Regions from separate parts of the Homo sapiens genome. Here region 1 is linked to region 2. Evidence: fine-mapped expression QTL. A gene starts in region 2. The other region holds a variant in brackets. All regions are shown on one strand. Distances are from middle to middle. Region 1 overlaps LRRC8B (leucine rich repeat containing 8 VRAC subunit B). Region 2 holds the start of LRRC8B (leucine rich repeat containing 8 VRAC subunit B).

Region 1 (4,392 bases), 33 kb after region 2:
ACCCTGATTTAGAAGTCATGTGTCAAACTTCCAGATGGGGAGTATATCTTTTGTCTCCTGGAAAACCATTGAAACTCTGTTTCCAGAGGGCCCATGTTTCTCCTCTTTGCTAAGACCAAGTGAAGCTGCAGAATCCTGCTGAGTTATGAAGCCCGAAGCCAGCCTAATGTGGAGAAATGACCTGTCACCTTTTTTGGAATGTAGGCATTCTATGTGATTCATATTAGTTATTTGTGCGTTATTTTAGAAGAACCTTACTCTATCACTTCAGAGTGCCCAGAGCTGCCCTAACTTATTCTGAATGCTATGGCTGAGCTAAATTCGTCTTCTCTGCTGATGGGGCTCAAATGGAGTCTTTAGTCTCTGCTAAAGGATTCAGGAAGCCTTTCATGTCATGTAGAATTTGGGATGTAAATTGAAGGTAAGAAGGTATGAAGATTGTAAGATATTTTTGCAGTTTTTGCTTCCAAACAAGGAGGTCTAATTAAAACTCTTGTATCTGTTCAATTAATATTTAGTAGCAGCTTCTACAAGCTAAGCCCTGGGGTGCATTGATAAGCATGATACATGTAGACCAGACCTCAGAGAGAAATAAACCTTTAATCAAACAATTACTTATAGGTTTGTGATAAATGTTATGAATGGAAGGGATAGAGAACTACAGGAGCATGTTGTGAAGTGACCTGTCATCATGTCAAGGAGGTGTCCCTTAGGAAATAACTTTCTTAGTCATTGACTCAGGGCATCAGTGACTTAAACGACTGCCTTGTTTTGGCCTTGAAAGCAAGCTTGACCTTTTAAGTGAACTATCTGGCACTGTTTGAAATTGCATCAGCCAGTTGGAATAAGAATTCGCTCTCCTGTGAGACTTTTCTTATACAGCATCATGTTATGTGTGTAATAAAGTCATATTTGGCCTTTGCCCCCATGTCACATCACAGAGCCCCATTCCTGATAAGAGTGTCCTTTGTTATTCATAGCGAGCCCCTGTTAACCATACCTAAGTTTGTTCTAATGTGGTAACTCACTGTAGGCACCTGGGTAGCTTCAGGATGGGGCCTGGTCACCAGAGGATCTAACCATGTGATTCCAGCATTGGAACTTTTACGCCCACCATCAACTTCTGGAAAGGGGAGAGGGACTGGAGATTTTCAGTCACTAACGGCCAATGTTATTTAATCAATGATGCCTACATAATGAAATTTTCATAAAAACCCCTAAACAATGGAGTTCAGGTAGCTTCCAGGTTGGTGAACACATCGAAGTGCTGGGAGGGTGGTGAGGTTGGAAAGAGCAGAGAAGCTCCATCCTCCCACTGCCCTCAAATACCTTGCCTTTTACATCTCTTCCATTTGGCTGTTCCTGAGTTGTATCCTTTATAATAAATCAATAAAGGTAAGTAAAGTGTTTTCCTGAGTTCTATGAGTTACTCTAGTAAATTATCAAATTTGAAGAGAGCGTTATGGGAACCCCCAAATTTATAGTCAAGTCAAACAGAAGTACAGGCAGCCTGGATTCCTGGGACTTGTGATTGAGTTTGAAGCAGAGGCAGTCTTGTAGAATGGAGCCCTTAAACCTGTGGAGTCTGATGCTAACTCTGAGTAGTTAATGTCAGAATAGGATTGAATTTTAGGACACCCAGTTGGTGTTACAGGGAGTGATATCAGAAAAAAAGACATCTCACTCTGCATTTACCCTAAATGTAAACCAGACATTCTCCCTCTCCAGCTGAGGAGCAAATGGCAACCAGTGATTTTGACTACCAGCAGCCATTAACCAAGTTACAAATATGAAGCATTAATTTAACACCAAGGTAAAAATGGACATTTTACCTGAATCATAAGTGACATAAGAGCTTGCTCTTTCAAAACAGACTGGTTTCTTTCTGAATGCTCTTGCCCAATGCTTCATTCCCCACACCTTCCTCCATGGAAAATAGGAGCTGGAACAGATAAGCAGTGTTGGCTGACTGGAATCTTTTAAAAAGCCTTCTCTGGGTTGGGCAGTTAGGCGTGTGCACTCCATTGGCACAGTGAGCCAGAGATTGTGCGCATTCTGTTTTTGTCTTTTTCCAAATCCCCAGTTGACAGACATTAAGGGATCCATTATCATTCCATTATTGCAAGGCAGATTTGGAGAAGAATTTTCTACTGAGATGGTTGTTTTGTCACAGTGAAACAAATGAGTGACATTCTATGTTTGGGCCACATAGTTCTTCTGAACCCCTGGGCCTCAATGCCTTTTTTGAAGCGTTCTTTTTGACTTCACAGTAGGACCCAAATATGATGAAATGTCAATGTCTTTGCAACACTTGCTATTTTGTTTCCCTGGAACCACAGTGGCATAAATAAAGCTCACTTCCTGGGTTGTTTTTTTCAAAGATACCATCCCAAGGCCAAAAGCATCCTCTTTTTAAATCACTTTGCTAGTAAAAGAATTAG[G/C]TTTCTTTATAAGAGTTCTCTTTTGCATCTGTTTGCTACTGCAATGATTTCAGAGTGCTTCCATGATATTTATTTTACCACTAATATCAATTCTTGAGCCAGTGTGATTATCTGTATTTTAAAGCTGAGGAGATGGAGGCCTGTATTTAGTGAGTGATTTAAGCCCATGCAGATGATGGTGGAGGCAGGCCTGGGACTCAGTCCAGTGTTCATTTTCCACACTGCTGCCATGGAAAACCAGCCCCTGCTTCTCACTCTCACTAGTGCGAGGAGCGGAGAAACAAAATGAGACTGTACTCAGTCAGCAGCAGATACATAAAAGTTTCCTAATTTTTATTTATATGTTTTTCCTAATTTTTATTTATGTGTTTTTATGTTGTGTGTTCCCCTGCTACGGCTTGGGGAACATTGAAATTAGGAAATTTATACTTACCTAAAACAGCTCTAGAACATTTACACAGTAACAGATCAGCAAGTAGAGCAATTACTCTAACATGTGCAGGGTTGACTCTCACAGCAGTGACTGCTGCTGACCAGTAAGTCAAGAAAACTTCTGTAAAAATGCCTAGTATCTGTAAGCATAGACACCAGTGAAGTATAGATAGAAATAAAGCCAGAGACTTAAAAAAAAATCCCTTGCCATCACAGCAGGGTTCCAAACTGATTGGAATCCATGAGACAGGCAGCATGATAAAGCAAGAGGTGGCCATAGCTAACTGTGAGGCTGAGTGAGTGCCCACAGCGAGTCACAGGGTGAAGCATCCTGTTGTCATGTTTGCACTGTTGTCAAGTGATCAGTGATCACTGTGATCACAGAATTCATAATCCAGTCTGCCCTGCATTTTGGGGTCAAACTTAGCACTCCTGGGAAGGAAACAGCAAGAGCCAATAAAACAGAAAGCAAGAGAAGCTGGAGATCACCACTCTTTCCCCTCACTTCCCATTGGCAAGCCTCCCCAACCCTCCCTGAGACATCACTTTGTCTTTATAATAACAAAGCAACAAGTCAAGAGGTGACATGTTTTAGAAAGAGCTCTCTGACTGCAGTATGGAAATGGGACTAAGGAGGGCAAGAAAGGAGGCAATTTCAGAGTCGTCCAGCCCAAAGATGACATGGGCCCCATCCAAGACAGTGGTAGCAAGATTGTAGAAGGGGCTAGTTTAAGAGACCATTGGATTTGAGGGAATAGAGGAAGAGAAAGTTTCTGGGTTAGGTGCCTGCCTTAGTCTGTTTGTGCTGCTGTAACAAAACACCTAAAACTGGGTAATTTATAAGTAACGTAAATGTATTCCTCACAGCTCTGGAGACTGGAAGGTCCAAGATCAAGATACTACAGATTTGATTTCTGGACGTTGAACATGGTGTAGGAGTAGAAAAGCAACAGGGACGGAAGGAGAGAACTTACCCCTTCAAGCCCTTTTATAAGGCACTAAATCCCATCATTGAGGGCAGAGTCCTCATAGCCTAATCACCTCCTAAATGCTCCATTTCTTAATATTGTTGCACTGAGGATTAAGCTTCAACATGAATTCTGAAGAGGACACAAACATCCAAACCATAGCAGTCAATGCCTTAGCCCTTGATGTTGCTATCAACCTGAGATTCGGGGATCAAGGAAGGACAGGTATGATATCTAGGTGTGGGAGGAAACGGTAGATGCAGTTTGGGACATGCTGTTTGAGTTGCTTCCACACATCTCGGTATATAGCCAGGAAGATGTTGGGGAGATGATTCTGCAGCTTGGGGTTAGGGAGCTGGGCTCACCATATACACAGAGGTGGCGGATGAAACCTTAAGCATAATGCTCAGGATGTCACCCGAGCATAGCATATGTGTGAGTAGAGAAGCTACAGGCCCAAGACTGAACCCCAATGCTTAAGGGATAAGCTAGTATTAGGAACCTTCCATGGTCCTAATACCTTTTTATCTTCAGTTAAAATTAGTACTTCC
Region 2 (4,392 bases):
GGATGAGTTCATGTCCTTTGTAGGGACATGGATGAAGCTGGAAACCATCACTCTCAGCAAACTATAGCAAGGACAAAAAACCAAACACCGCATGTTCTCACTCATAGGTGGGACTTGAACAATGAGAACACACAGACACAGGAAAGGGAACATCGCACACCACGGCCTGTTGTGGGGTGGGGGGAGGGGGAAGAGATAGCATTTGGAGATATATCTAATGTTAAATGACGAGTTACTGGGTGCAGCACACCAACATGGCACATGTATACATAAATAACTAACCTGCACGTTGTGCACATGTACCCTAAAACTTAAAGTATAATAAAATAAAAAATAAAAAAATTTTAAAAACCTGCCTTCTGTTGTTACCAGGTAGCTGCAACAATAGAAGGCCACATATCTCCCCAGATAGCCTCCCTCACAAATTGCTTACAGTGAAATGCCTTGTGGGTCCCTAAATCTTTCAGAATGCATATCCCTCCTATAAATGAGCCCTAAAACACAGTTCTGTTGAATCTCACTCTGACAATAACAGCTCATCTTCATATGTATGGTATAAGGACAAGACTTGGAAATCATCCCTCTGCCCACCCCAAGACAAATTCATAATTGACTTTCCCCCTATTTTCACATTTATCTTATGTAAAATGTAGATTTACTGAGCATGAGAGGAACACATAATCAGTATTCCTCTACCCACTCTTCACACGCAAAATGTGAATTCACTGGGCACTAATCAAAGCCTCACAAGAATGTAACTTCTTCCCTCATTGCCTACCTTCCCATTTCCCTTTTTTTTCTTTCTTTTCTCCTTCCCCTCCTGCTGGCTCTTTCCCCTTTAAATACTGAAGTCCTCAAAAACTCTCTTTGCAAAAGGCACAGATCACAGATGTTCCTGTATTTGTGCTTTCTCCTGGGGAATGTCCTTAACCTTGGCAAAATAAACCTCTAAAACGATTGAGACCTGCCTGTCATTTTTTTGGTGCTTAAAATCCATGATGGAATTTTTAATCACTATTTTAGACTTGGGTAAATCTGGCTGTGAAAGTAGTGACAGAGTCTTTTAGAATTTTCTTCTACCAAAAATAATTAATCAGAAAGTCCCTGAGAGAATTTCAGATACTCCTGTAAGGATCAAACCTAAATTTAAATTAGACTTGTAGATCTGTGCATACCCAGTGTCTCACACATATAAACTCAATAAAAATTTATCGAATGACCAAGTGAAGAAATGTTCTTTCAGCTTTTCCTTCAAGACTCAGAAAAAAGATATCTGCAGTTCCAGAATGGACTGAGTGAACAAGAAAAGAACAGATCAGTGACACAAAGACAGCCTTCTTTTTCCCTTTCAGGGTGACTCAAATTGTAGTCCTCATCTGAACAGTCTGAGACACAACTCTTGTCTCATATTAACTCGATAGGGCATTTGCTATACTCCCATTTACACAAACTGCTCAGATGCCCCAAATGCTGAGTCTGTTCGTCTTCATTTTATTCCTTTGGGAGATGCCGGTACAAACTTGTTTTTTCTTTCTTTTTTTAAATGGAGATGTGACCACCATAGCAACTAAAAGACATAAATCTTGCCTAATTGAATCAGTGTGCTCAAGATAATAGCCAGGGCAGAGACTGAGTTAAAACTGGGGTAAGGGTGAGAGTGGGGAAATGGATGAGGATGATAAAAATATTTATGTCCCTAGAATTTGTGGGTTTGGATTAATTCTGTTTCGTAAGGAATATTGTTGGCCTTCAAATGCAGTGCCACTTGGGAGAGAAGCAAGCGGGCAGTAGTTGAGGTGTCTCTGCAGTTGAATCGCAGTGAAAGGCAGGTTATGAGTATAGGGACCGCCCCTCGGCCATGTGGTCCCCTCCCTATCCTGAGGATAACGACATTTGAGAGAAGCCAATGGTATTGGAAGGCCAGAATCGAACTTAAGCCGCTTAGTTGGTACAACTGTAAACCCTCCCTCACAGAGGCTGGGCCCTGCAATCTTTCTAAGCAGGGTAAAGAAAAGTAAGGGGACTTCCTTTTCGAAGAGGAGGTTCCCGCGTGCTGCACCCGACCTTTCCCTCAGGGCCCAACACGCGTTATATAAATGCCAAGTTACTCAGGGACGCACACGTGAGAAGGCTGGGGCCCGACACACGCGGTGTAGTGCCGAAGTCACCGGTGTGGCGCGCCTGGGGGACACGCCGAAGCCCATTTCCCTCCCGCTTCTGGAAAGCAGTCCCCGCTCTTTCCAGCTGCTCCGCGGGGCGTATGGCTGTGCGCTACCTCCTGCGGACCCCAGGCTGGGCGAGGGGGCAGCGATGGCCACATGGCGCGCTCGGGGAGATGGCAGCTGCGCTTTGTTTCCAGCAGTGATAGGTGAGTCACTGGCTCCCGCAGCCCCAGAGCTGGGCAAACACTCAGGCCCAGGCAGCTGAAAAATTCACAGCAGGAGCAGCTACCGAAGCGACTGCAGCCTCTTCCTCCTCTTCCTCCTCCTCCTCCTCCTCCGCCACTGCTACCGCCACCACCGTGGTAGCCGCCTCCGCGCCCTGCCTCCGCCCCGTCCCCTCCTCCTCCACCCGCGAACTTAGTCAGCGGTTCGCGCCGCCGAGCGCCCATTGGCCAGCGGAACGCGTCGCGTCACAATGGAGCCGGTCGGAGGCGGCGAGCCGGACAGCGCCGGGGCTTCCCGCTGAGCCCGCAGCCTCCGGCAGCCGGGAAAGTGCGGGCGCGGGGCCGCAGCCTGCCCGCCCGGAGCGGCCCAGGAGCACGCCGCGGGGAGCGCGGGCGTCCGGGGCTGGAGTCGCGCAGGTAGGTCGGAGCGTGACACCCCGGTTCCAGGAGGGCGAGCCGCGCCGACCGAGGTGGTGGAGGAGGAGGACCGGATACGGGGACGCAGCAGGTGGGGCTGGCCGAACAGGTGCGGTTACCTGTTCACGCCTCACCTGCGAGCCAGGCTGCGGGCCGGTAGCGCGGCTGCAGAGACGAGTGGCCGCTTCGTTGTGCTCCCTGCCTTCGGGAGAGACGGAGTCCCACGCTGAGAGGACCTCTCCTGTGTGCTGGGGTCATTTGGAGCAAGAGGTGTGGGCGGTCGCGCCGAGACGGTCACCTCTCTTTCCCCCGGGAGTCTCGGCGTTGCACCTGAGCGTGAGTCCTCGGGGCGGGGCGGGAAAGGGGTTCCGCTTTCCCAGGCTGGCGTCTCGCTCCAGATGAGCGCAACTCCCCTGAGGGTGCCCCCATTTGGTCGCTCTGTTTTGCCCCCTGCGCTGGCGCTGTTGGGAACTATTTTATGCTCTTGGGAACTATTTTATGCTGTTGGATACGCGTTGGTTGCCTATAATTTGGTGGTGGTGTTGGGCGTTGATTTGTTTGAGAAAGAAAGGGCAAGCGTTACCAATTTAAGAAGAAGACTCAAGAGTTTCCCCTGAGCTTAGTTGAGCAGGTGCTGAGAGGTCAGAAGGGAGGAGGCTCAGTATTGGCTCATTAATCTGTGTGCTCAACTGACTTCCTAAAGTCCATAGATTGCCTTTAGTTAGATGACATTTGTGGAAAACTTTTTTTTTCTTTGTGGTCAAAAAGACACCCCTCTAAAAGAACAAAACCGACATGTGAACTTCCTTGAATAAATTCACTTCGCCTAAAGACTTCAAACAAACAAACAAAAAAACACTCCACTGGTAAAAGATAACAGTATGAACATTTTAAATTGTAGATATATAGCCAAATTAAAACAGGCAATTTGTTCAGCGTATATTAAGAAGACATTACGTAGCATGATTTTTATTAAAAGACAACCTATTTGCAAATGATATAGTAGTCTTTGCAGAACACCCCAGAAATCTTAAAACAGATTTATCTTTATCAGATGGTTCTGTCCCCTAAACCTAGGTGTAGGAGTGAGGATGGAAAAGAAGTCAAACTGCAGTGTAATTTTTTAAACAATTCCAGTACCCTCTATGTGTACAGGCTACACCTCCTGAGAACCCCAAATGCTCTTTGTTTTGTTTCTTTGTTTTGTTTTGAGACGGAGTCTCACTCTGTCGCCCAGGCTGGAGTGCAGTAGTGCGATCTCGGCTCACTGCAACCTCCACCTCCTGGGTTCAAGTGATTCTCCTGCCTCAGCCTCCCGAGTAGCGGGGACTACAGGGGCCCGCCACCACGCCCAGCTAATTTTTATATTTTTAGTGGTGGCGGGGTTTCACCATGTTGGCCAGGCTGGTCTGAAACTCCTGACCTCAAGTGACCCACCCACCTCGGCCTCCCAAAGTGCTGGGATTACAGGTGTGACCCCAAATGCTCTCTGAATTGTGGGTGCCGAGGTGACTTTCTTTTTCTCCTGGCTTTCCTTGTCAGCAGCTCTACTCAGAGAATATAAAGTGACAGCCAACCCCCAAGGTAAT

The links.
Region 1: its variant is fine-mapped to the expression of LRRC8B in whole blood (INTERVAL, PIP above 0.99).

The regions. Positions count from the first base shown.
Region 1 is chr1:89,554,971-89,559,362 of GRCh38, forward strand. All of the region lies in intron 1 of LRRC8B (leucine rich repeat containing 8 VRAC subunit B), which reads left to right. Among named protein-coding and RNA genes, the nearest start is that of LRRC8B, 32 kb to the left of the region's middle. The variant G/C (reference allele first, on the strand shown) is at 2,442.
Region 2 is chr1:89,522,220-89,526,611 of GRCh38, forward strand. It overlaps LRRC8B (leucine rich repeat containing 8 VRAC subunit B), which reads left to right and starts at 2,610. Exons shown (of 6, transcript NM_001369817.2): 1 at 2,610-2,803. RefSeq lists a silencer at 2,474-2,933 and enhancers at 3,635-4,136, 4,137-4,392.